7 linked regions of the Homo sapiens genome follow. The protein of the gene in region 1 purifies or fractionates together with the protein of each later gene. This does not show direct contact. Each region holds a gene or a part of one and is shown in the gene's direction. Other genes may lie near its edges.

The links.
Region 2: the proteins of RNH1 (region 1) and LRPPRC fractionate together in Homo sapiens (co-fractionation; one large-scale study listed by BioGRID). This does not show direct contact.
Region 3: the proteins of RNH1 (region 1) and TNIP3 purify together in Homo sapiens (co-immunoprecipitation; one large-scale study listed by IntAct). This does not show direct contact.
Region 4: the proteins of RNH1 (region 1) and ST13 fractionate together in Homo sapiens (co-fractionation; one large-scale study listed by BioGRID). This does not show direct contact.
Region 5: the proteins of RNH1 (region 1) and ZNF638 fractionate together in Homo sapiens (co-fractionation; one large-scale study listed by BioGRID). This does not show direct contact.
Region 6: the proteins of RNH1 (region 1) and SLX4 purify together in Homo sapiens (co-immunoprecipitation; one large-scale study listed by IntAct). This does not show direct contact.
Region 7: the proteins of RNH1 (region 1) and GOLGA4 fractionate together in Homo sapiens (co-fractionation; one large-scale study listed by BioGRID). This does not show direct contact.

Annotation. Positions count from the first base shown.
Region 1 is NC_000011.10:497,243-500,742, reverse strand, and holds part of RNH1 (ribonuclease inhibitor), read left to right. Parts: intron 1-88; coding exon 89-259; intron 260-743; coding exon 744-914; intron 915-1,557; coding exon 1,558-1,728; intron 1,729-1,809; coding exon 1,810-1,980; intron 1,981-2,115; coding exon 2,116-2,286; intron 2,287-2,601; coding exon 2,602-2,772; intron 2,773-3,500. UniProt on the Homo sapiens protein: Ribonuclease inhibitor which inhibits RNASE1, RNASE2 and angiogenin (ANG). May play a role in redox homeostasis. Required to inhibit the cytotoxic tRNA ribonuclease activity of ANG in the cytoplasm in absence of stress.
Region 2 is NC_000002.12:43,887,990-43,891,489, reverse strand, and holds part of LRPPRC (leucine-rich PPR motif-containing protein, mitochondrial precursor), read left to right. Parts: intron 1-1,127; exon of another isoform or gene 1,128-1,267; intron 1,268-1,613; coding exon 1,614-1,756; intron 1,757-2,833; coding exon 2,834-2,890; 3' UTR 2,891-3,500. UniProt on the Homo sapiens protein: May play a role in RNA metabolism in both nuclei and mitochondria. In the nucleus binds to HNRPA1-associated poly(A) mRNAs and is part of nmRNP complexes at late stages of mRNA maturation which are possibly associated with nuclear mRNA export.
Region 3 is NC_000004.12:121,136,822-121,140,321, reverse strand, and holds part of TNIP3 (TNFAIP3-interacting protein 3), read left to right. Parts: intron 1-1,637; coding exon 1,638-1,698; intron 1,699-3,500. UniProt on the Homo sapiens protein: Binds to zinc finger protein TNFAIP3 and inhibits NF-kappa-B activation induced by tumor necrosis factor, Toll-like receptor 4 (TLR4), interleukin-1 and 12-O-tetradecanoylphorbol-13-acetate.
Region 4 is NC_000022.11:40,850,140-40,853,639, reverse strand, and holds part of ST13 (hsc70-interacting protein), read left to right. Parts: intron 1-2,759; coding exon 2,760-2,817; intron 2,818-3,500. UniProt on the Homo sapiens protein: One HIP oligomer binds the ATPase domains of at least two HSC70 molecules dependent on activation of the HSC70 ATPase by HSP40. Stabilizes the ADP state of HSC70 that has a high affinity for substrate protein.
Region 5 is NC_000002.12:71,338,282-71,341,781, forward strand, and holds part of ZNF638 (zinc finger protein 638), read left to right. Parts: intron 1-3,500.
Region 6 is NC_000016.10:3,584,144-3,587,606, reverse strand, and holds part of SLX4 (structure-specific endonuclease subunit SLX4), read left to right. Parts: exon of another isoform or gene 1-671; intron 672-2,735; coding exon 2,736-2,838; intron 2,839-3,463. UniProt on the Homo sapiens protein: Regulatory subunit that interacts with and increases the activity of different structure-specific endonucleases.
Region 7 is NC_000003.12:37,326,771-37,330,270, forward strand, and holds part of GOLGA4 (golgin subfamily A member 4), read left to right. Parts: coding exon 1-1,055; intron 1,056-1,645; coding exon 1,646-1,767; intron 1,768-2,192; coding exon 2,193-2,323; intron 2,324-3,500. UniProt on the Homo sapiens protein: Involved in vesicular trafficking at the Golgi apparatus level. May play a role in delivery of transport vesicles containing GPI-linked proteins from the trans-Golgi network through its interaction with MACF1. Involved in endosome-to-Golgi trafficking.

The DNA of each region.
Region 1 (3,500 bases):
ATAGGTTGTAACCTGCACGTGGGGTGGTGGTGGAGGCTGAGGCCAGTGCTGTCTGCGTGGTCCACATGACCCTGGGGTCTGCTCACAGGCTGGACGACTGTGGCCTCACGGAAGCACGGTGCAAGGACATCAGCTCTGCACTTCGAGTCAACCCTGCACTGGCAGAGCTCAACCTGCGCAGCAACGAGCTGGGCGATGTCGGCGTGCATTGCGTGCTCCAGGGCCTGCAGACCCCCTCCTGCAAGATCCAGAAGCTGAGGTGAGGCGGGGCCTGGCACTGCCTCTGGCCTGGTGCAGTCTGCTTTGGTAGCCCGGCAGCAGGGGACAGAGCCGCCAGGGGCGCGTGGGCAGCTGCAGGTGGACAGGCAGTGGCAGCAGACATTTCCAACATCAGCCAGAGGCACACAGGCCTGGCGGTCTCACAGCGGGGGGGACAGGGCCCTTCCTGCCTTATCCCAGCCCCCGCACCCAAGATCTGGCCCTGCCCGCCATCCCTAGCCTTCCAGCATCACCACAGACCCCCACTGAAAGGTGTGTCTGCAGACAAGGTTTCCCTGGGTCGAGCCACATGCGTGCCCTCCTTCACTCGGCCTGGAGACCCCAGACCCCAGAGCCCCGTCCAGGGAAGGAGCAGGTATAGACCTGCCGCCTGAAGAGTGCTGCTCCGGGCTCTGGGCTCTGGCAGGCGAAGGGCGTGGCAGCTTGGCTCAGGGGAGCCCTGCTGACAGCCAGGTATGCTCCAGCCTCCAGAACTGCTGCCTGACGGGGGCCGGCTGCGGGGTCCTGTCCAGCACACTACGCACCCTGCCCACCCTGCAGGAGCTGCACCTCAGCGACAACCTCTTGGGGGATGCGGGCCTGCAGCTGCTCTGCGAAGGACTCCTGGACCCCCAGTGCCGCCTGGAAAAGCTGCAGTGAGTTTGTGTCCTGCCCCAGGGCCCATGCTGGCCGCTGCCTGTCCCCCAGCCAGCCCCCTACATAGAACATCGCCTGCCAGGAGCCGTGAGGAGGGGACTCAGGTCACAGGGGCCTTGTGGTGCTCTCCTTTCCCCATGATGCTGGGTCTGGGGCCTTGTGGTGCTCTCCTCTCCCCATGATGCTGGGGCTGGGGGGATCTGTCATCACCCTCCCTCCCCATCCAGTTGTCCTTTGCAAGGCACAGCTGCCCCAGGACCCGACGGTGGGAACAGATGCCTGGCCGTGAGTCAGGTTCCACTCACCGCCTCAGTGTGTGTGGGGGACCCGGCCATTGTGAGTTGACCACAGCCTGGGACGTGCAGGTGGCCCTGCCCTCCAGAGGCTGGTTTCTTTCTCCCGGGCCTGGTTGGGCCCCAAAGTCTGAGGTCCGGGAGGGGGTGAGGGGTTTCCAGAAGGAATGCCGGTGTCCACAGAGGCCCGGGCCTCTGGATGAGTCTGTGGGGGTCCCTCAGCACTGACACCTGATGCCCAGGCAGAAGACTGAGGGGAGATGAGACACCAGCACACCCCGTGCTCCCTGGTATCACACCCTTGGCTGGTGCACATTCCTGTGTGGTGCTGAGCTCTGCTGTCCCCCAGGCTGGAGTATTGCAGCCTCTCGGCTGCCAGCTGCGAGCCCCTGGCCTCCGTGCTCAGGGCCAAGCCGGACTTCAAGGAGCTCACGGTTAGCAACAACGACATCAATGAGGCTGGCGTCCGTGTGCTGTGCCAGGGCCTGAAGGACTCCCCCTGCCAGCTGGAGGCGCTCAAGTAGGCACTGGGCCTTGGGGGGGTGCGGGGTGTGGGCTAGGGGGGGTCCCGTGCTGCCTCACGTGTGACCCGTGTCCCCAGGCTGGAGAGCTGCGGTGTGACATCAGACAACTGCCGGGACCTGTGCGGCATTGTGGCCTCCAAGGCCTCGCTGCGGGAGCTGGCCCTGGGCAGCAACAAGCTGGGTGATGTGGGCATGGCGGAGCTGTGCCCAGGGCTGCTCCACCCCAGCTCCAGGCTCAGGACCCTGTGGTGAGTCATCTCCGCGAGGCCTCCTTCCCGGAGGGTCGGGCGGCGGGCCGTCCTCAGAGCTCTCCCCCGCCCCTGGGCTCATCTCAGGCCATGAGACGGTGCTGAGGAAAGTCTGTGGTGGTCCATGTCCTGCAGGATCTGGGAGTGTGGCATCACTGCCAAGGGCTGCGGGGATCTGTGCCGTGTCCTCAGGGCCAAGGAGAGCCTGAAGGAGCTCAGCCTGGCCGGCAACGAGCTGGGGGATGAGGGTGCCCGACTGCTGTGTGAGACCCTGCTGGAACCTGGCTGCCAGCTGGAGTCGCTGTGGTGAGTGTGGCTGTCGGGGCAGGGCCCTGTCGCCCAAGAGAGGGCCAGGGTGACCGAGGAGACCAGGGGAGGAGTGAGCGACTCCAGGGAAGCTGCTGGGCTCAGCTCCGACCTTCAGAATGCATAGGCCAGGGAGCAGCCTGTGGTTTGATGGGAACAGTGCTTGGGGCCAAGGACCAGGTGTAGGTGCCCACTTGCTGGGAGGCTGTCAGATGTTTTTGCTCAGGTCCACGTGGGGCCTTCAGGGGAAGGGCCAGTCGCAGCTGTGGGCCAGCCTGGGCCCCTGCCAGGCGTCAGTCCTGTCTGTGTCCACAGGGTGAAGTCCTGCAGCTTCACAGCCGCCTGCTGCTCCCACTTCAGCTCAGTGCTGGCCCAGAACAGGTTTCTCCTGGAGCTACAGATAAGCAACAACAGGCTGGAGGATGCGGGCGTGCGGGAGCTGTGCCAGGGCCTGGGCCAGCCTGGCTCTGTGCTGCGGGTGCTCTGGTGAGTGTGTGAGGGACACGAGTATGCACATTTGGGAGATCATATGCCCGTGTGTGCACACAAGGGCGAGAGTGCACGAGTATCTGTGTGAGCACGAGTGTCCGTGTGTATGTGAGCACACATGGGTGAGGCGAGTGTGAGCACGTGTGTGAGCATATGAGTGTGAGCATGGGTGTCCGTGAGCATGTGAGAGTGAGCACGTGTCCGTGTGAGCACGTGAGTGAGCACGAGGGTCCGTGTGTGAGCACATGGGCAAGAATGAGCACGAGTGTCCGTGTGTGAGCACATGGGTGAGCACGTGTGTGTGAGCACATGGGTGAGAGCACGAGTGTCCGTGTGTGAGCACGTGAGAGTGAGCACGAGGGTCAGTGTGTGAGCACATGGGCAAGAATGAGCACGTGTCCGTGTGTGAGCACGTGAGAGTGAGCACGAGGGTCCGTGTGTGAGCACATGGGCAAGAATGAGCACGAGTGTCCGTGTGAGTGTGAGCACATGGGCGAGAGGGAGCACGAGTGTGTGTGAGCACATGGGCGAGAGAGCATGAGTGTCCGTGTGTGAGCACATGGGTGAGAGCACGAGTGTCCGAGTGTGAGCACATGGGTGAGTGAGCATGAGTGTCCGTGTGTGAGCACGTGAGAGTGAGCACGAGGGTCCGTGTGTGAGCACATGGGCAAGAATGAGCACGAGTGTCCGTGTGTGAGCACATGGGCGAGAGTGAGCATGAGTGT
Region 2 (3,500 bases), on another chromosome or scaffold:
GGTTGAAATATTCCAGGAATTACCAAAATGTGACACAGAGACACAAAGTAAGCACATATTGTTGGAAAAATGGCATTGATAGACTTGCCCAAGGCAGGGTTACCATAAACCTTCAATTTGTAAATAACGCAACATCTGTAAAGTGCATTAAAGCCAAGGTATGCCTGTAATGTGAAATAGTGTCAAGCGCATAAATCTGTGTGTGTTACTACTAAATTAGGTAATCCATTTTGGGAGGAAGGTAGAAAATCAAGAAGTAAAGAAAGGCAAGATGCCAGAATTTTCGGAGCAGCTTCCTAGAAGATAGAGCTTGAGCCCTTAAAGGGTTCAGCTCCTCAGGAAGGGAAATAAAGGATTTACACAAGAAGTTGACTTCATGGAAACAGCAAAGATGTGTTCCAACTCCACTAAGAGCTGATGAGTCACCCTCATTCCACTTTGGGAGACTCTTTGATTGCTGAACGTCTCACCTCTGTCTTAGGGGTTCCCCTGGTGCTGCCGGAGTTGCGGTTGACAATATCAGAGTCAGTGTAGGGCAGGGGTTTATGTGATGCTTAGATGCTAACAATCTAATGCAAAATTAAGGAGTTGAATTACCAGCAGTAATTGTTAGCAGAGCCCTTACCATCTCCATGGTAAACTAAAAAATTTCCACAAATCAGCCACAAGTAGAGAGCCAGCCAAATTTGGCTCCTAACATATTTCATCATTCACTTAAGTGAAACTAGTGTAACTTGTTAATGTCTCCTTATAGGTTTTGCTTTTGTTTGTTTTTTGAGATGGTGTCTCGCTCTTGTTGCCCAGGCTGGAGTGCAGTGGCACCATCTCGGCTCACTGCAAGCTCCACCTCCCGGGTTCACACCATTGTCCTGCCTCCGCCTCCCAAGTAGCTGGGACTACAGACACCCGCCACCACGCCCGGCTAATTTTTTGTATTTTTAGTAGAGACAGGGTTTCACCATGTTAGCCAGGATGGTCTCGATCTCCTAACCTCGTGATCCGCCTACCTCGGCCTCCCAAAGTGCTGGGATTACAGGCGTGAGCCACTGCGCCCGGCCTATAGGTTTTTTGTGTGTGTGTATCATTGTAGCTAACTATACTTTCCATATTTGTTTATTTTACAATAGAAAAATGAAAAGCTTTTTTGATGTTGAGCTGATGATCTTGATGTTGATGTAGATTTCTACATAATTGACATGTCCCTCTCCACAACAGTTCCTGGATTATCTTGATTTCACAGTGGTTTTAAGCCAAAGGGGATTGAATGGTGTGTATTATTTTATAACTGAGGACTTCAGTTTGTGGTCACTTGAACTATCATAGGTCTTAAATAATGTAATAACCTAAGTGAATGGTATCAATATTATTCTAAAGTCCTTTAAATGTAGCCATATTTGTCATTTTCTTCTCCTTCAAAGTGAGTGATGCCGAATGAGGGATGTAGAGAAGTGAGGGAGATGGTAGATTCTGAATGTGGCTTCTTACTGAAAGTAGTTAAGTGTTCATTTGCCGTGGGATAAAGGGATCCAGCCGTCCCTGAGTGGCTGTTTTGGTGAAAAGAGTAAGATAGGTTGTCTTTATCTCTGATTAATATATTTTTTTCTTTATGTCAGTCTCAGAGAAAGATGTCACATCTGCTAAAGCACTGTATGAACATTTGACTGCAAAGAATACAAAATTGGATGATCTGTTTCTAAAGCGTTACGCATCTTTGCTGAAGTATGCTGGAGAGCCTGTCCCTTTCATTGAACCCCCTGTGAGTATTTCTTAATTAAGGGGAAAAAATACCTCTGCAGATTTATGTGCACTTCATAACAATGTGTAAGAAAATAAGTTGAAGACTTAATTACATGAGGATTAGATCTCTGTGAAGAGCCCTCAGGGGATGGCTTGAGGGACTGAGCAGCATGCCTTGGCTGCGGCAGTCGGAGAACATAGCTCTCTGGGGCCACAGTTTAAAATACAAGGTCTGTCTCAGACCTTCAGCTATAGGCATGGATTTACCAAATGTCCTTGGGGCAGTTCTCTCATTTCAACTTGAAATAGGATTTAATGGCCTGTAGTTCAACAGCCAAGCATATTATGTCAGTGGTAATTACTTGTTCATTTACATAAGTTGGTTTTTATTTCTTCGTCTAGGAAATTTTGCCTTTTTTTTTTTTTTTTTTTTTTTTTGAGATGGAGTCTCGCTGTGTTGCCCAGGCTGGAGTGCAATGGCACGGTCTCGGCTCACTGCAACCTCCGCCTCCCAGGTCCAAGCGATTCTCCTGCCTCAGCCTCCCAAGTAGCTGGGATTACAGGGGCCTGCCACCATGCCTGGCACATTTTCGTATTTTTAGTACAGATGGGGTTTCACCATGTTGGCCACGCTGGTCTTGAACTGCTGACCTCGTGATCCGCCCACCTCGGCCTCCCAAAGTGCCGGGATTACAGGCGTGAGCCACTGTGCCCGGCATGTTTTCTTTAATAAGAGAAATCACATATGCACAATTCCTTTTTGTTATGTCATTGAACTGAGTCAATACACCGTGTTTATTTCAAACACCTCAGCCTTCCATACCCATACCTCCATATGTGCACACACACATGCTTGCACATACACACGTATACACACACGCACCCTACCTCCTGCTGCTAGCTTTAACTCTGAACCCGAGGCCCTTGAACTTGTGATTTCATGAAACAAGGAAGGAGTACTGAAGCTTGAGGGGCAGCATCTTCCATGGGCCTGGCAGTCTTAGCTACCAGTTGGTAGTGTTTTATGATTTTTTAAGTTATGTACCATCACCTCTTGCTGGTATCTCTAACTTCCCTCTTTTTTTCTCCTTAACAGGAAAGCTTTGAATTTTATGCACAGCAGCTAAGAAAATTGAGGGAAAACTCTTCTTGAAATAACCAGGCGATACTTTGTTTTGTATATATTTGTGATTCTGTGTCTACATGTTATTTTGAAGTATATCTGAGGGAAAAATAAATGAAAATTTTCTTTATGTACTTATGTATGTGTGATGCATGTTCAAAGTCTTATTGACCATAACTCTGTGCACTTGGTTATTGGACATTTTTGGAGTTTTTTTCTCTGGGAAAAATCGATAGTGTTTTCTTCAATGCTGCTGCTGTGTGAAGCCATACTTTTTCAGGATTCTTCCCCTAATTGGCTCTTTGGTTTCCCTGCTCTGTTTCATTTATTTCATTAAAATGTTATTCCTTTATTTAAGATTCACTTATTAGTCTGCTGTTTCTCTGAAAAATTTTAGAGCTAGGTATAGTGACCGTGAACTTTCTAACGCATAATATTCTGTGATACAGCCATTCCGTACATGTGTGAAGTCCTGCATAACTTTCGAACTTTGTTAAATGTTGGCACTAGGAGTCATCAGATCTAGGCTTCATCATTTTCCAGTGAGAAGCAGAGACCCAAAGGGCCTGTTACTTGTGCTTGGTCAGGGGACTGTCTGTCATGCCTGGAGGCTCTTCGGCACACTTCCCCATCTTTCCCT
Region 3 (3,500 bases), on another chromosome or scaffold:
CGCTCTGTCATCCAGGCTGTAGTGCAGTGGTGCGATCTTGGCTCACTGCAACCTGTACCTCCTGGGTTCAGGCAATTCTCCTGCCTCAGCCTCCCGACTGGCTGGGACTACAGGCACACACCACCACACGTGGCTAATTTTTGTAATTTTAGCGGAGATGGGGTTTCACCATATTGCCCAGGCTGGTCTCAAACTCCTGACCTCATGATCCGCCCACCTTGGCCTCCCAAAGTGCTGAGATTACAGGCATGAGCCACTGCGCCTGGCCAGAATGGCCTACATTTTCAAGCAGTAGTCAGATGAAAAAAATCTCAGCATAACAGTAGAGTTTACAACCAAATCCTCAAAGTTAATTTAAAAATAATATTTCATGTTTCTTGTCTATATCGAAGGCTGAATTAAGTCACATGCTATAGTGTTGGTAACATTACAGGATATTTACCTTCTCTTGGCAACTCTCCTGGAATATAAAACTGAGGCTCACGTCACTTATCCTATGTGTTATTTGAGACATCTAAAAATAAACGAGAAGATAAAAAACAGAGGTGATCTCATTTCCTCTTCTAGCTTTTTCATAAGCCAGAGGAGCCAAGGGCCTAGGTGTCTAGAGTAGGGGTACAGTGGGGTCAAACTGCACTAAAAGCAGCATTTCTCAGTGTCTTATTGAGTAATTGAACTTTCTGGGCTACTTTCAGTGGTCTGGCAGCCTTGTAAATGCTCTCTGTTGGCTCATGTTAGAAAAATTTTCCTCAAGTTATTTTTAGGAGATAATTGAATTACAGAACAACAAAAAAATCTATATTCTCTGTGTCTTGTGGAGAAGTAGGAGGCAGGGGTGAGCATTCAGAGCAGAAAGACAGACCTGCTTTGTGGGCAGGTAAAGCTGAGATTGCTCCATTCCTAAGCGTTAAATACAGAGGTGCTGGCCTTGGAGATATCTTGATGATTCAGGCCTATGGGTTTACTATTTATTCAATGCAATTTGTTCGACATTCAATATCTAGCTGTTCTTAACTGGTGTAAACCTAGGAGAAAATCCCAAGAGAAAAATCTTGTCTCTGTAGACTAAACTATATGAGCAATTTAGAGGATAGGTTCTGCTGGATCGGTTCTTCACAACAGCAAAAAGGGAAAGATTTGCCCTGCTTCACCATCCTGAACTTCTGTCAATGCCAAATCCCCATTTAATAGCTTAAATTTCTTCCTTAAACCATTAGAAAACTTGTATTAAACTTTTTTTCCTGGCCTTCTCATTGCCTCTAGTGTGAGGGTCTCAAAAAGAGTATTTGTTGATGCTAAGTTGCTTTGTTTTATTGATGGGCTGTAGTAAGTTTTACAAGTGTTTATACTTCTGCAGATATTCAAAACACATCTGTTTCAAAAAAAGAAAGAAAATATGTCACAACCTCAAAGTGGTAGAAATTCTGGCCAAACACAGAGTGGATTTAAGAGGGGGTAGGGAGAGATGATGGCAGTGATGGGGGGTAAGCAGGATGAGTGAGGTTGGCAATAGGTTTGGATAGAAATTACTTTTGTGTTGCCTGCTTAATAAAAGCCACATAGCCTAATTGTATTTTTGACATGCCACTATATTTGAAGTCCATATTGCTATAATAATGTTGTATTGTTCCACACAGCCAGACTATCAGTGGTATGCTCTTGACCAGCTTCCGCCAGATGTACAACACAAGGCAAATGGTGAGACCACAGCTGTATTGAGCATTCTTTCATGTTTACATCTTAATGGGATCTTTTGGGGATGTTTACTCAACATACATTCATTCGTACTTGGGGAGGACTTACTATAAAGTTGTGTTACATACATAACTTTAATTTGATGCACCTGGGGTTAAATTGAACTCCTTAAGACAAAGAAAATGTGCGAATGCAGAAATGCATGAACCTCAATTCTGGCTTCTGTTCCTTTTTCAGTCTCAGAGTCAGAATTCCATCTGGGGTTAGAAATGAAAACTGTAAGCAGAGCTGTATTATAACAACAACAAAGCTCTGCAATTGTACTACAAAGCACAGATGCACACCCACTATTCCAGGTTGAGTTTGCTAGACAGATGTTTTAAATGTCACTGGCAGACAGACAGAGGAAACCAAAGGCTCGGAACTGTGTTCCCTTATGACTAAATGTCAGACTCCAAGGCAGGGCTCTTAGTTTAGGCCAGGGTTGCCCACAACGCCCACCTCAAAGTATGCTGGGGAAAACTAAAAGTCACTTATGAAGTACTCACAACTAAGAGTACTTTTTTAAATCTTATTTTTTATTGATTTAACATTTTCTGTTTTCTTTCTAGAATCTGCTATACTTTCTACTGCTTGTTTCTATGGTCTTGTGAGGCCACCCAGAAGCGGGCTGTATAAACTGAGCTATAATCAAAATCCCACTTCTATTCTCATCAAGTATACATAATCAAAAGTTAGAAATGTCTGCTACATGTTTAAAGTCTCATATGACACACACCTGGGACTCTAACTTGTTAATTTCCAAAGATTTGAATCTATCTAAAAATGCTGAAGATGAGCTATGTAGTCTAATTTCAGGCCATTCTTGAAATTTGATCTCGTTTGAAGTCAGAGCTGAGATCACAGAAATCTAGTTTTTAATACAAGGAGTCTGTTATGGAGTGTAAATAGGGAGTCAGGGACACCACATGTAGTTTTGCAGGTTGTGAACTTTACAAGTCTGAGGGGCTCATCATGGTACTCTATGTGAATGGAGCCTGCTGAAGTACAATACGCAATCTGGACAGCTGTACACAGCAGCAATGGGAGTGACAAAGGCCATAGATTACAACAGCATCATAGAAAAGAAATATGAAATGTGAGAATTCCATAATAAAATATCCAGGTATTTATCAAAACACTATAGGACTCTCTTTTTTCTTTGCTTTCTACTACAAATATAGCCAGTGGTTTTAATGAAGTTCTTGAGTTCCAACAATAATGGAGTTGTTTTATTAGAAAGGCATACCATTAACCGGAATGTGTGTTGCATAATATATGCAATTTTAAAATCTATTATGGTATAATAACAGAATTGCTACCCAATTATAATTTTCCATTTTATATTGCTCTGGAATGACTATTAAAGATATTTTCTTTCTGAATTGGAGTTTAATAACTGGAAAATAAAATTACTTAGTACAGAATTTAGTAATACCATAAGGTCATTTATATATCATTATTAGATTCTTGCTGGACCAATATTACACAAGCTAATGATTACATAAAATAGAAATGAATTGTGATGACATTCAGAAACTAAATAGAATATGCAATAATGAAATGTTGTAGTCAGTGTATGAGACTTACTGATTTTTGTCTAGCTAGGAAAAATGTAGTGAGCTTTGTGATGTATAAACATACCATGTAACAGTGTCTACAGATGTAAAACTACAACAAAAAAATCTCCATGATGTACCAACCTAAGCTTTTTTTTTTTTTTTTTTTTTCGGAGACAGTCTTACTCTGTCACCCAGGCTGGAGTA
Region 4 (3,500 bases), on another chromosome or scaffold:
ATTAGAAGGTTATCAAATTAAGAGAAATGTGAATGAAGTTTTATGTGGTCCTATGTGAGAAAAGTCTCTACACTGGTCCTACTTGATTGTGTAACATAAAAAAGCCTGTAGTGCCAAAGTCTAAGTGGCAGTTTTTGGCCAGAAAGTAGCTTGTTCTAAGCCTTGGAAGCATTAATTGAAATTTCGTACCTATGAGTTGGTGTTTTCTTCCATTAGTTAACTAGAATTTGGGATGGGAGAAACTAAATCTAGCTTATGAGTAAATCCTCTTTTTTTTTTAAAGTTTTTATTTTTTTTGCAACAATTTCTAGCTCAGAAAAATTGCAGGTATGGTACAAAGGAATTTTTTCTGAACTAGTTGAGAGTAAGCTGCCAACATTATACCCCAACACCAGTGAGTGTGTACTTCCTACAAAGTCTTTACAATGCAAATACTAAACTTAGGAAACTAATGCTGATGCATTTATGCTATCTAATCCTCAGATTTATGTGTTGCATTTAGTTGCCATGTCACGTAGTCTCCATTCTGAAACAGTTCCTCAGTCTTTCCTTGACTTTCATGATCTTAACAGTTTGAATGTTATTGGCAAGTTATTTTATAGACTTTCAATTTGGGTTTGTCTGGCCTTCCCTTAGGATTGGATTTAGCTTAATACATTTCTTGGCAGGAATATCACTTCCCAAAGTTAGTGTACTGTAAGTTATACTATGTCTGGATGTCACTCTAAATACATTCCTGACGCTGCATTTTGAAACTTAGGAAGAACACAGTGTAAGAAACCCTGTGTCTTCATTAAAATTTAACTACAAAGGACTGGTGATTACTGTGCTCTTTTGCAAAGTAGTGTTTCCATAGAAAAGAATTTTGTGGTGTCTATATGCCTGTTCCTTATCATTAAATCATTTTACTTTGCTGAATTGCAGATTAGGATGTTTTGGATCATATAATCTTTATGTTTGACATGGGAGCTATTCCATATTAAGGGTACTGTGTAACATTTTCTTCTATCATATTAAACATAATGGAAAAAGTAGGCACATTTTCTTCGTTTGAATGGTGCTTATAAGAAATTCCAAATTCTGTTTCTTTTCATTCCATCTGCTACTTTGCATTTATACTTTTGCTTCATATTGGGATTCTCAGATGATACTAAGGGAGTGAAAAGGCAACCTACAGGGTGGGAGAAAATATTTGCAACACATAAAGCTGACAAAGGGTTCATATGCAGAATACAGACAACACCTTCAAATAAAGAAGGACAATCTATTAGAAAGCTGGATGAGAGTTGAACTGTACAAAAAAGTCTTTTTAAATGACCAGTAAATATATGAAAAGGGACTCAACTGCAATGAGATGCCAGTAGGCACCTATCAGAATGGCTAAAAAATCTTTAAGATGGACAATAGCTAAGCATTGGCCAAGGCGTGAAACAATTGGAATTCTCATACATTGCTGATAAAAGTGTAAATTGATAAAAGAACTTCAGAAAACTGATGCCCATTTAAATTCAGCCTGCACATACCCTTATGACCACAAATTCCACCCAACTGAAATGAATGTAAGTGTGGATATGACAACTCTAGTTACAAAGAATCAGGCCGGGCGCAGTGGTTCATGCCTGTAAATCCAGCACTTTGGGAGGCCAAGGCTGGCGGATTACGAGGTCAGGAGATCGAGACCGTTCTGGCTAACATGGTGAAACCCTGTCTCTACTAAAACAAAAAATCAGCTGGGTGTGATGGCATGCACCCTGTAGTCCCAGCTACTTGGGAGGCTGAGGCAGGAGAATCGCTTGAACCCAGGAGGTGGAGGTTGCAGTGAGCCAAGATTGTGCCACTGCACTCCAGCCTGGGTGACAGAGCAAGACTCCATCTCAAAAAAAAAAAAAAAGAACCCTTTCTGTTTTCAAAGTTAATATATCCCCTTGTTTTACATAGTTAATGGCTTTTGTTGTTTGTTTTTAAGGCAAATTTTAATAATGTCTACGTTGCTTCCAACTGTTGTGGAGTGCTCTTAAGTCTATCAACCATTTTAGTCACTGGATTGTTGCAGGTAGCCCATATACTATAGGGTCTGCACCAAATGGAGCATGTAACGCTAATTCTTTGTAATTTTTCTCTTCTAGTTATTTGCTTATAATGAATTGTGTTGCCCTGAACTATTTGGGAAAGAAGAGTTTGTAGGGTCAGGAGGAAGTATTAATGGATGAGGTTGGGAGGGGTGTATAAGGAGAAAATCTATAATGTGATGGGCATGCAAATATAAGCAAGAAAAATTCTCATAGGTCTCAGTCACAGGACACAAACATTTTGAATTATATCATGACGGTATAGTTACTTCATAAACTGCATATTTGAATTTAATTGAACTCTTATTTCAAGTTTCAAATTTAGGATTCAGATATACCTACTGAGTTGAATTCTAAGTTAACAGCTTGTGCAAATGATTTTGTCATTGCATGTTGACATATCTGCCTCTTTTCCTCTGGGAAGAGGCACAGAGAAGCTATACATTATGTTTATTTGACTCATTGAGGCAAAGAAAGGGGTTCATTAGCCAGTAGCCTTAAAATAAATTTTAAGCTGGAAAAAATTTAACCATAATAATACCACAGCATTCAGATTAATTGAGAGTTTACTTTTAAATTTTGAAAAGGTAGTCATCTAAATGTCTAACGTTATTTTTTAGGTGTAAATACGTTGCGTGACAGTGAATTTTAATTTTCTAAACAAATATCTTTTTTCTCATCTTCTTCAAGCATGGGTGGTAAAGTACCACCTGCTACTCAGAAAGCTAAATCAGAAGAAAATACCAAGGTAAGTTTTAATTTCATTTGTATGTTTTGTGATAAAGTACTATAAGATTTCTTAGGGGTTGTTTTTAAACTGCTGCTCTCCAGTTATCACTCCTGATTTCCCCAAGATCACTTGGAAATAAGACCTTTTAAGACCTCTTTATCTTTATAACTTTGTAGACCCGAATTCTCTGGATTCTGATTTAGAACTGAGAATTTAGGGTTGGATGTTCACTGTTTTAGAATACATGACAATAAAAGTTACATGTATGGCCTGTAAGTGGTAAGCTCCGTGATGGTGTGCATCCGTAGTCTTCATCATTGCCTTACAGTGTGTCATATGCATTGTAGGTACTTTATTTATTATTTGCAGAGTAAATGAAGTATCCCAGGTCAGTAATTTAATTTTTTTGCTCTACTACCTGAGTGATATTTGTGAGTGTGAATCATGGTGTTGGGTTAGCATATTTGCTTAAAGGACGTGTAAGATTAGGAGAAGGTTACCAGTAGCTGAAGTTGAGAGACAGATGAAGGGGAACATACATGTTTAAGAATGTTTTCTTTTATTTGTTTGTTTTTTCTTTCCTGAGACAAAGTCTCACTGTGTCACCCAGGTCTGAGTGCACTGGTACAATCTCGGCTCACTGCAACCTCAGCCTACTGGCTTCAAGCGATTCTCCTGTTTCAGTCTCCCGAGTATCTGGG
Region 5 (3,500 bases), on another chromosome or scaffold:
ACTGTTATTCTACATTTAGTAGTAGGTACTCAGCACTCTATAAGAGCTTCCCTTCTTCCGCATTGATTAATTTATTGCTATGTATTTATGGACTCTGTTTTTTCCAGTGTTTGATAATTTATTACTCTTCAGTTCTTTCTTGCTTTCTCCTATTTCCTATTTGTATTTCTTGTCTTTCACAATGAAAGCCCTAAGTTCCTAGCACCATCAAAACATTTACTTACTTGCTCAAACTTATGATGTATCTAAAGTAGTTTCAGAATTGCTTCATCCATACCACTACAAAAAATAAAATTACTAAAAAGAGTGAAAATTCGTTATTCTTCTCTTTCCCTTAGCTCCATCAAAACTGAGGTACATAAATCGTTTTTTATTTATTTATTTTCCTGGGGGGCTGTAACACTCGGGGTGTGGCCTCCTGTGAGGTACATAAATTGAATAGTGGTTTATAAGTTCTTGGATTAGTTTTCTTTTTCCCCTTCAATGTATTGTGGTATGCATTTGAAATATGATTGGATTAGTTTGCTTTCAGTGTTAGATATTTTTCTCCATCCCATCCTTACTGATTTTAAAAATATATGTAAATTGTTAACATGTTTCCAAAGGTTAAAACTGTATAGTAAGATGCTCCTTGAAATAACATTACCATATCCCTTCAATCCTTTCTATCCATTACCCCTTATAGATTACCAGCTTCATCGTTTTCTGTATTATTCTTCCTTTGTTTCTTTGTGCTAACCATAAAGAGGTATATGTATGTTTTCCTGTTTTCCTTTTTTGTTTAACACAAAAGATGGCATACTGTATGCTCATCTGCACTTGTAAAGACTTCAAGGCTTAAGGCTTTTAATGCATTTAGTCGGTTTAGGTTTTTTTTTTTTTTTTTTATTGAGACGGAGTCTCACTTGCACCCAGGCTGGAGTGCAGTGGCACCATCTCAGTGCACTGCAGCCTCCACCTCCCAGGTGCAAGTAGATTCTCCTGCCTCAGCCTCCTGAGTGGCTGGGATTACAGGCGCCTGCCAGCACACCCGGCTAATTTTTATATTTTTAGTAGAGACAGGGTTTCACCATGTTGGTCAGGCTGGTCTTGAATTCCTGACCTGGTGATCCGCCCTCCTCAGCCTCCCAAAGTGCTGGGATTACAGGCATGAGCCACCGCGCCCGGCCAGTTTAGGTATATTTAATTGAAGATTTTAGAACCCACTTTAGGTAAATGGAAACATTTTTTGGCCATGTTACTCCATGAAGAAAAGCAAATAACCAAATGGCAGAGAGGGCAAGGATGAGTTAGGCTTCAGAAACAATTGGGACTGGATATTGAATACCTTCATTATTGTCTTTACTTCTTGGTCTTGCTTACCTCTGTTCCAGTGGCTTTTGTTGTTGTTGTTGTTTTATGGTGCAGTTTCTCAGTAAAGCAGTAAATAGGGCTGTTAACAGCATTTGAATTTTAGAAACATCTACCACTTTTCTCATTTCTAGTTTAACAAAAAATCCTAGGGAAGATTTCTTTGTTCCAGCTTGGATAAGGTGTTTCCTCTTGGGCTAACCTGTTACACTTACTAGGAGTGTTTAGAGCAAGGCCACCAGTGCACATCTGCGGGGGAGCATCATTTACAATAAATACAATGTTGTGCTCTAGAGGCCTGTTTACGTATGCAGGTCACATGCTCCTAAGAAATAAAAAGGTATATCTTACAATAGCCCATTTATCAAAAAATCATTTTCCTGAAATTGGTAACAATATTAAATCATTGCTATATGGGATTAATGCCTGGTTCTCATGGAGATCTCTTAACATTGTGCATTAGCAGTTTTCCATTTTTTTTCAAATCTGAAATCATGGTGTTTATCAATCCTTGCAGTTAGTAGTGAAATTTGGTGTTGCCCTTCATGATGCCAAATAACGTTTCTAATTTTCTGCTTATTTTTGCTTTCTGTTTCATTGACTGTTTCTTTGAAGGCACCACATTTTGGCATTTTAACGTGAAACATGGTACTCTCTGTCAACACTTGTGGCACCCTCAGAATTGTTACTTGCATGCCTTTTGTGAGACAAGAGAGGACAAAGACTAATAGTAAAGAAGTTGGCTGAGTGGCTTTATCTGCGTGGTAGGAGAGATCAGCAGATTGAGTACCAGGAAAGCACAGAATGACATGTTAGTTTTTATAGCTGAATAAACAATCAGCCTCTTCTATTAACTACCCATTGTAATAACTGCATTCTTAAGTACCAAAGTGAATTTATATATTCTGAGACAAACAGTGCTCTAACAAAGCAGTATCAAATGAGGTATATGGGTGTATGTCTAGAAAAATAATGTTAGTGGTAGTTTTCCCTTTGTGGGAAGATTATAGAATACTTTTTTTTCTTTCCTGCATGTTATAGGGTGGTTTTTCTTTTTGGGGGGCGGATTTTGAAACTGTATTGCTTTTTTATGATTAGAAATAAAGTTATAAAGTAGATTTACACTTAATGTATCTGGTATATGGAAAGAACACCAATGGGAGATGTTGTAATCTTGTTACTTCCTAGCTGTGTTTTACTTAATGTGTGAACTGGAATTCCTTTCCTCTTAAGGTCATTGTGAAGCTCAGACGAGATAATATTTAAAGTGCTTTGTAAACTTTAAAGTAGTGTAAGTCCAAAAGTATGGTGTTTGATATAAATCTTTTCCTTATAAGTCTGATGGAGCCATTATCTGATGGATTGATTTTTGATGATGGTTTTGGATAAAGTCTGCCCATATCTGTAAAGAAAATTAAGGGCTCCCTTCCTTCTGAAAGACTGCATCAAAATAATAGGCAGTTCTTGGTTGTCTGTGGTATTGGAGATCTCAGAAATACCTCACAGGATCTAATAGCGCTATCTTTTCAATTCATCAAGCCGTTTCATCATGGCTTCCTCAAGAACCCAGTTTCTACTATGTTTCTGAAAGAATTTTTATGGTTGACATTATATTGAATATTTCTTGTTTTACAGTGGTATGTTTTAGTTCTTAAAAGGACATAAATGAGAGTTATTAGTTACTTGTTAAAACAGTTCAAAGGTTCAGCATGTTTTGTCACTATTAAGTATCCAGTTTTTGAAAAATAGTAAATTTAGAAAAATAAAATGTCAACTGAAAAGAGCAAATAGTATACTTCTAATTTTGTACAGTGTTTAATATACCCCACCCCCCCATCATGCGTGCATGAACGTACACTAAAGTAGATGAAACTATACCAGAGTATTAATTTACTCTGGGTGATGGTTTTATTGGTAAGGATTTTGTTTGCAGCTTTATTGTTTCTGTAACAAGCACACATTACTTACATAACTAGGAATAAAACATTTATTTTAAAGGGTTAATGCTACTTAATTGCAGTTTTTTCCCCAACAAGTTAATAGTTAAGAACCCTGATCTCAACTCTTCGTTTTTCCAGGTTATTTATTTCATAAGATGACTATCCATAAATCTTCCGATGAACGAACCTCTTTATGACCAGAGCTCCTGG
Region 6 (3,463 bases), on another chromosome or scaffold:
AGGACGACGCTGCGGCCACAGGAAGAATCGTGCTTTTCTCAGGAGACAGAGCCTGCCGCTTTCATCGGGGGCTCAAAGGGCTCCATGGTCATAAAAGGCAGAAGAACCAAAGTCTGACTGTTTCCAATGTGTCACCAGGCTGGAGTGCAGTGGGGCTATCTCGGCTCACTGCAACCTCCACCTCTCGGGTTCAAGGGATTCTCCTGCCTCAGCCTCCCGAGTAGCTGGGATTACAGGCACCCAGCACCACGCCCAGCTAATTTTTGTATTTTTAGTAGAGTCGGGTTTCACCATGTTGATCAGGCTGGTCTTGAGCTGCTGACCTCAGGTGATCCGCCCACCTCGGCCTCCCAAAGTGCTGGGATTACAGGCGTGAGCCACCTCGCCCAGCCTATTATTTTTTAAAGTAACAGCTTTATTTAGATATAATTCACATACCATAATATCCACCCTTTTAAAATGGACAGTTCAGTGCTTCTCAGTACATTCACAGTGTTGTACAATTGTCCCCACTCTCTAATTCTAGAACATTTTCATCATCTCAAAAATCCTGTACCCATGAGCAGTCTCTCACCTTCCCCTTCCCCCAGCCCTGGCAACCAAGAACCTTTCTGTCTCTATGGATTTGCCTGTCCTGGACATTTCATATAAACAGAGCCATATATAACTAATATGTGGCCTTTTGTGTCTGTGTCTGGCTTCTTTCAGTTAGCATACAGTTTTCAAGATTCATACATGTTGTAGCATGGATCAGTATTTTATTCCTTTTTATTCTTTTTTTTTTTTTTTGAGACGGAGCCTCTCTCTGTTGCCCAGGCTAGAGTGCAGTGGCACGATCTCGGCTCACTGCAACCTCCACCTCCTGGGTCCAAGCGATTCTCCCGCCTCAGCCTCCCGAGTAGCTGGGATTACAAGCGCCCATCGCCATGCCATGCCCGGCTAATTTTTTTGTATTTTTAGTACAGATGGGGTTTCACCATGTTGGCCAAGCTGGTCTCGAACTCCTAACCTCAAGTGATCCACCCACTTTGGTCTCCCACAGTGCTGGGATTACAAGCCTGAGCCACTGTGCCTGGCCTGTTTTTGAGTCAGGGGTCTTGCTCTGTCACCCAGGCTGAAGTGCAGTGGCGCAATTACAGCTCATTGTAGCCTCGACCTCCCAGGCTCAAGTGATCCTCCCACCTCAACCTCCTGAGTAGCTGGGACTACAGGCAGCTGCCACCATGCCCAGCTAATTTTTTTTTTTTAGTAGAGACTGGGTCTTGCTATGTTGCCCTGGCTTTGGGCATACATTCCTTTGTATGTCTAATACCCCACTGATGGTATGCCACATTTTGCTTATCCATTCATCTACTAGTGGACACACGGGTTGTTTTTAATTTGTGGTTATTAATAATGCCACTTAGGAATATTGATGTGCAAGTTTTCGTGTAGACATGTTTTCCTTCTTCTTGGTTCTGTACTTAGGAGTGGAATTGCTGGGTCATATGGCAACTGTGTTTAGCATTGTGAGGAACTGCGAGACTGTTTTCCAAAGTGACTGCACCATTTTAAATCTCCACCAACACTTGTTATTCTGTTTTTGTTGTTGTTGTTATTGTTTTGAGACAAGGTCTTGCTCTGTCGCCCAGGCTGGAGTGCAGTGGCGTGTTCATGGCTTGCTGCAGCCTCAACCTTCCTGGCTCAGGTGATCCTCCCACCTCAGCCTCCCGAGTAGCTGGAACCAGCCACAAACAGCTGCCCACATTGGTGACTTGGGCCACCACACCCTGCTAACTTTTTTTGTATTTTTTTTTTTTTTTTTTTGTAGAGATAGGGTTCTGCCATTTTGCCCAAACCCTCTGTGTTTTTTGTTATGGCCATCCTAGTGGGCGTGCAGTGGTATCTCACTGTGGTTTTGACTTGCATTTCCCTGATGACTAATGATGTCGGGCACCTTTTCATGTGCTTATTGGCCATTTGTAGATCTTCTCTGGAGAAATGTCTGTTCACATCCTTTGCCCTTTTTTTTTTTTTTTTTTGAGACAGAGTCTTGCTCTGTCGCCCAGGCTGGAGTGCAGTGGTGTGATCTCGGCTCACTGCAAGCTCCGCCTCCCAGGTTCACGCCATTCTCCTGCCTCAGCCTCCCAAGCAGCTGGGACTACAGGCGCCCGCCACCACGCCCAGCTAATTTTTTGTATTTTTAATAGAGACGGGGTTTCACCGTGTTAGCCAGGATGGTCTCGATCTCCTGACCTCGTGATCCGCCCACCTCGGCCTCCCAAAGTGCTGGGATTACAGGCGTGAGCCACCGCGCCCGGCCCCTTTGCCCATTTTTTAACTGGGTTTTTTTAAATTGATGAATTATTTTTAAAAAGCAAAACTGATGTCTAAGCCTGTTTGAAGAGTATCAGTGTGGCCCATTGTCTCAAGTTGTCACTGTGGGTCAGATATTTTTAAGTTTACATGCATAAGTTTTAGTCACGTGCCGGGCTGTTGGGTTCAGTGGCCCCAGGAGCTCTGTTCACCCGGCACCCGTGTTATACAAGGTGTGGTCCTCAGTGCGTGTCACCGATGCTATCATTGGGAAGCCCCTGCTCCAGACAGGGAAGGGGTGACCACTGTTGCTTTCATGGAGCAAAACGATGCTTGGGTTATCTTCAAGTGCATTATTCCTCTTGGTCACGCTACTGGGATCAGATGTGGGAAATCCGTGTCCCTCATGCTAAAACGTGTGCTTCTTTTGTTTTACCCAGAAGGTGCTAATCGGAAGAAGAACTTGCCCCCCAAAGTGCCCATAACGCCGATGCCACAGTATTCCATTATGGAGACGCCGGTGCTGAAGAAGGAACTGGATAGGTTGGCGGTCTTCAAAGCTTGTTGCCCACAGTGGTCTTTTCCCTCCCATAAGTAACTGGGTTTCACACACCTGGGGGCGGAAGGGCCCCCCGTGTGGTCTCTGGGTCTGGTGGATGCAGCTGGCCTGGGCTTGGGAAGAAAGGTCTGCAGTCAGCTCCTTAGGGAGCATGTGTGACTGCTGGGTGCCGGGGTGAGCCTCCCAGTTCTCTCTGCGTACCATTCCCCAGGGAGGCAACACACAGGATTCGTGCATGTCACCCCTGGGCAGCAGGTCCCCATATTCCATGTAGATGGAAATGGCCCCCTAGCCAGAGCAGTCTGAGTGAGGAGGTCTGATTTTTTTTTTGAAAGACAGAGTCTTGCTCTGTCGCCCAGGCTGGAGTGCAGTGGCGCAGTCCCGGCTCACTGCAACCTCCACCTCCCGGGTTCAAGCGATTCTCCTGACTCAGCCTCCCGAGTAGCTGGGACTACAGGCACACGCCACCACACCAGGCTAATTGTTGTATTTTTAGTAGAGACGGGGTTTCACCATGTTGGCCAGGCTGGTCTCGAACTCCTGACCACGTGATCCACCCGCCTCGGCTTCCCAAAATGCTGGGATTACAGGCGTGAGCCACTGTGCCCG
Region 7 (3,500 bases), on another chromosome or scaffold:
CTTGAGTCAGAAAGTGCTGCAAAATTAGCAGAGTTGAAGAGAAAAGCTGAACAAAAAATTGCTGCCATTAAGAAGCAGTTGTTATCTCAAATGGAAGAGAAAGAAGAACAGTATAAAAAAGGTACAGAAAGCCATTTGAGTGAGCTAAATACAAAATTGCAGGAAAGAGAAAGGGAAGTTCACATCTTGGAAGAAAAACTTAAGTCAGTGGAAAGTTCACAGTCAGAAACATTAATTGTACCCAGATCAGCAAAAAATGTGGCAGCATATACTGAACAAGAAGAAGCAGATTCCCAAGGCTGTGTGCAGAAGACATATGAAGAAAAAATCAGTGTTTTACAAAGAAACTTAACTGAAAAAGAAAAGCTATTGCAGAGGGTAGGGCAGGAAAAAGAAGAGACAGTTTCTTCTCATTTTGAAATGCGATGCCAATACCAGGAGCGCTTAATAAAGCTAGAACATGCTGAGGCAAAGCAACATGAAGATCAAAGTATGATAGGTCATCTTCAAGAGGAGCTTGAAGAAAAAAACAAGAAATATTCCTTGATAGTAGCCCAGCATGTGGAAAAAGAAGGAGGTAAAAATAACATACAGGCAAAGCAAAACTTGGAAAATGTGTTTGACGACGTCCAGAAAACCCTCCAGGAGAAGGAACTAACCTGTCAGATTTTGGAGCAAAAGATAAAAGAGCTGGATTCCTGCTTAGTAAGACAGAAAGAAGTACATAGAGTTGAAATGGAAGAGTTGACCTCAAAATATGAAAAATTACAGGCTTTACAACAGATGGATGGAAGAAATAAACCCACAGAACTTTTGGAAGAAAACACTGAAGAAAAGTCCAAATCACATTTGGTCCAACCCAAATTGCTTAGTAACATGGAAGCCCAGCACAATGATCTGGAGTTTAAATTAGCCGGGGCAGAACGGGAGAAACAGAAACTGGGCAAGGAGATTGTTAGATTGCAGAAAGACCTTCGAATGTTGAGAAAGGAGCATCAGCAAGAATTGGAAATACTAAAGAAAGAATATGATCAAGAAAGGGAAGAGAAAATCAAGTAAGTTTTATTTCAGCTTGAATATTTTTATGGCAGTCCTTCTTAATTAAGTCTCCTTTTTTTGTGCCTAATACAGTTATTTTAAATTATTTGGATAAGTTTCACCAACCCAAAATATTAAACATAAATCCAATATGTTAAATATGAGGAGAAATAAAAACAATTTAGGGCAAGTGGCAGTGTTATTCCATGTCCATTTAGGAGAGAAAAACCTTTTCTTGCATATAAGATTCTGGTTATTAGGGACATATCCAAGTAATTATTTTCTTTTTGTTTTGTTGTTTTTAGTATTAGCATTATTATTATATAACATAGATGTGTTTTGAAAAAAAAATTAAAGTGGAAAACAAAAATTCTCTGGTCCCCAGGACCACTACTTAGAGGTAATCATAGTTGATATGTACCTGGACACACACACACACACACACACACACACACACACACTCACTCTCACACTCTCTCTCTCTCTCTCTCTCAAAAATGTTTTCATACAATGAACTCATACTGTATGCACTGTTTTAAAGACCAGGTAGCTCCTTGCAGCTTGTTCTTTGTGTGGCAGCAGTTAACGGTACATTTTTATTACTCAGACAGGAGCAGGAAGATCTTGAACTGAAGCACAATTCCACATTAAAACAGCTGATGAGGGAGTTTAATACACAGCTGGCACAAAAGGAACAAGAGCTGGAAATGACCATAAAAGAAACTATCAGTAAGTAAAATTAAGTTCCATAAGGAACAATTATATCAGCAGAGGCTATAATTTAAGCTTATCATTTTTGCAGTGGTGGTAAGTGCATTAAGTCATTAAACTGGGGAAGAAATAATCCTTGCCCAATAACATTCTCTAATGGGAACCTGCCCTGCTTGGCAATGACTTACCTTAAGGAGAGAGGGAGCAGGTAAAACAATCTGAAAGTATTAGCTAATTAATTACCTTGTAAAGACACTTTTGCTCAGGGAGAGGATACATTTGATCACTGTTGAGCTAGATGTCTCATTAAACATCTTAAAATGCTTATATAAAATTAAATTTCATCAAAATTAATTGGAATGAGAGTTGTTACTGAAATTGAGATACAAATATTAACTCTTGACTAATGTGTTTTCTTGTGTGTGTTCATTTTTATTTATTAGATAAGGCCCAGGAGGTGGAGGCTGAACTTTTAGAAAGCCATCAAGAAGAGACAAATCAGTTACTTAAAAAAATTGCTGAGAAAGATGATGATCTAAAACGAACAGCCAAAAGATATGAAGAAATCCTTGATGTTTGTACCTTATTTCTTCTCTCTCACTTTTGAAATTTAGCTGTAATAGATTTCATGGTAGTGCCAAAGATTTCCTTTTCAAATGTGTTTTTTGAACGAAAAGGGTTTTTTTTTTTGACTCAATATTATTCAAATTAGTACTGTTATATGCAGATTTATAAAGTTGAGTTGATTTCTGCCAGGATTGTAGTTTCCTGATGAGATTCTGCTAACTAGGCAGCACAGTCCCCTTGCTAGTATTGAAGCAACAGTAGATACTAAAAGGAAGAATAGATTCTTTCCCATCTGCCTCACAGATTCTGACTGAACTGTGAGGGGAACCAGACTAAGAATCAAGACCCTGTGCTTCGGTGAAGTCTAAGTAATGGGATAGTGAGTGTGTATTTAAATGTGGCTGCTTAACTTAGCTGGAATCTTTCTGGGAGGGACAATCAACTTTACTCTTATCTCTACCCAGTGTGTGGAGGTTGATTGGTCTCAAGAGAAGAAAGCTGGGAAAAAATGGAATGCATAAGCCAAATCTTTTATATTTAGTGGAAGGTTATTTCAAAATACTTACTCTACTAATGCCATGTTGCAATTCACAGAATATGCCACTAATGCATTGCCATTAGCAAAATAAGATAAGCCATGAAGATACACCATGAAGATAAATCATAAATGCTAGTTAGTACTTTGGACTAACATTTGAAAATGTTTTCAAATGTAATACAATATAAATTGTTCTTGGTTGGGTTACAGATTCTGTAGTTGCTCTAAGCCTTATTTCACTATATGCTAAGAATCTTTTGGTGATTAAGAATTCATAAATCAAAGAATCATACCTCAGCTGACTATGTCAGCAGAAGTCTGAGTCGGGAACAGATTCTAATAATTATTTTAAATGTAATTGAAATGGCTAGAATTCCAAGATATAACACATGCCTATAAATGCCACCTTTTATAATTCTTGAGCTTTATATGTCATTATGAAAAGATTTAAATAATTTCACATTTTCTTATACTTCCATAGAGGATATATGTGCTAAATGAAAAAAAAAAAGTATTATTTCTTGAATGCCTAGAGAGTGTTGGAAGATACAGTAAAGCTAGTTTAGTTCTACTTTTTTTTTTTCTGTTTTTGTTTTTCAGAAGGAAAAGCCAGTTCAGTGTAGTTAAGTAATTTCCCTAAAACTAC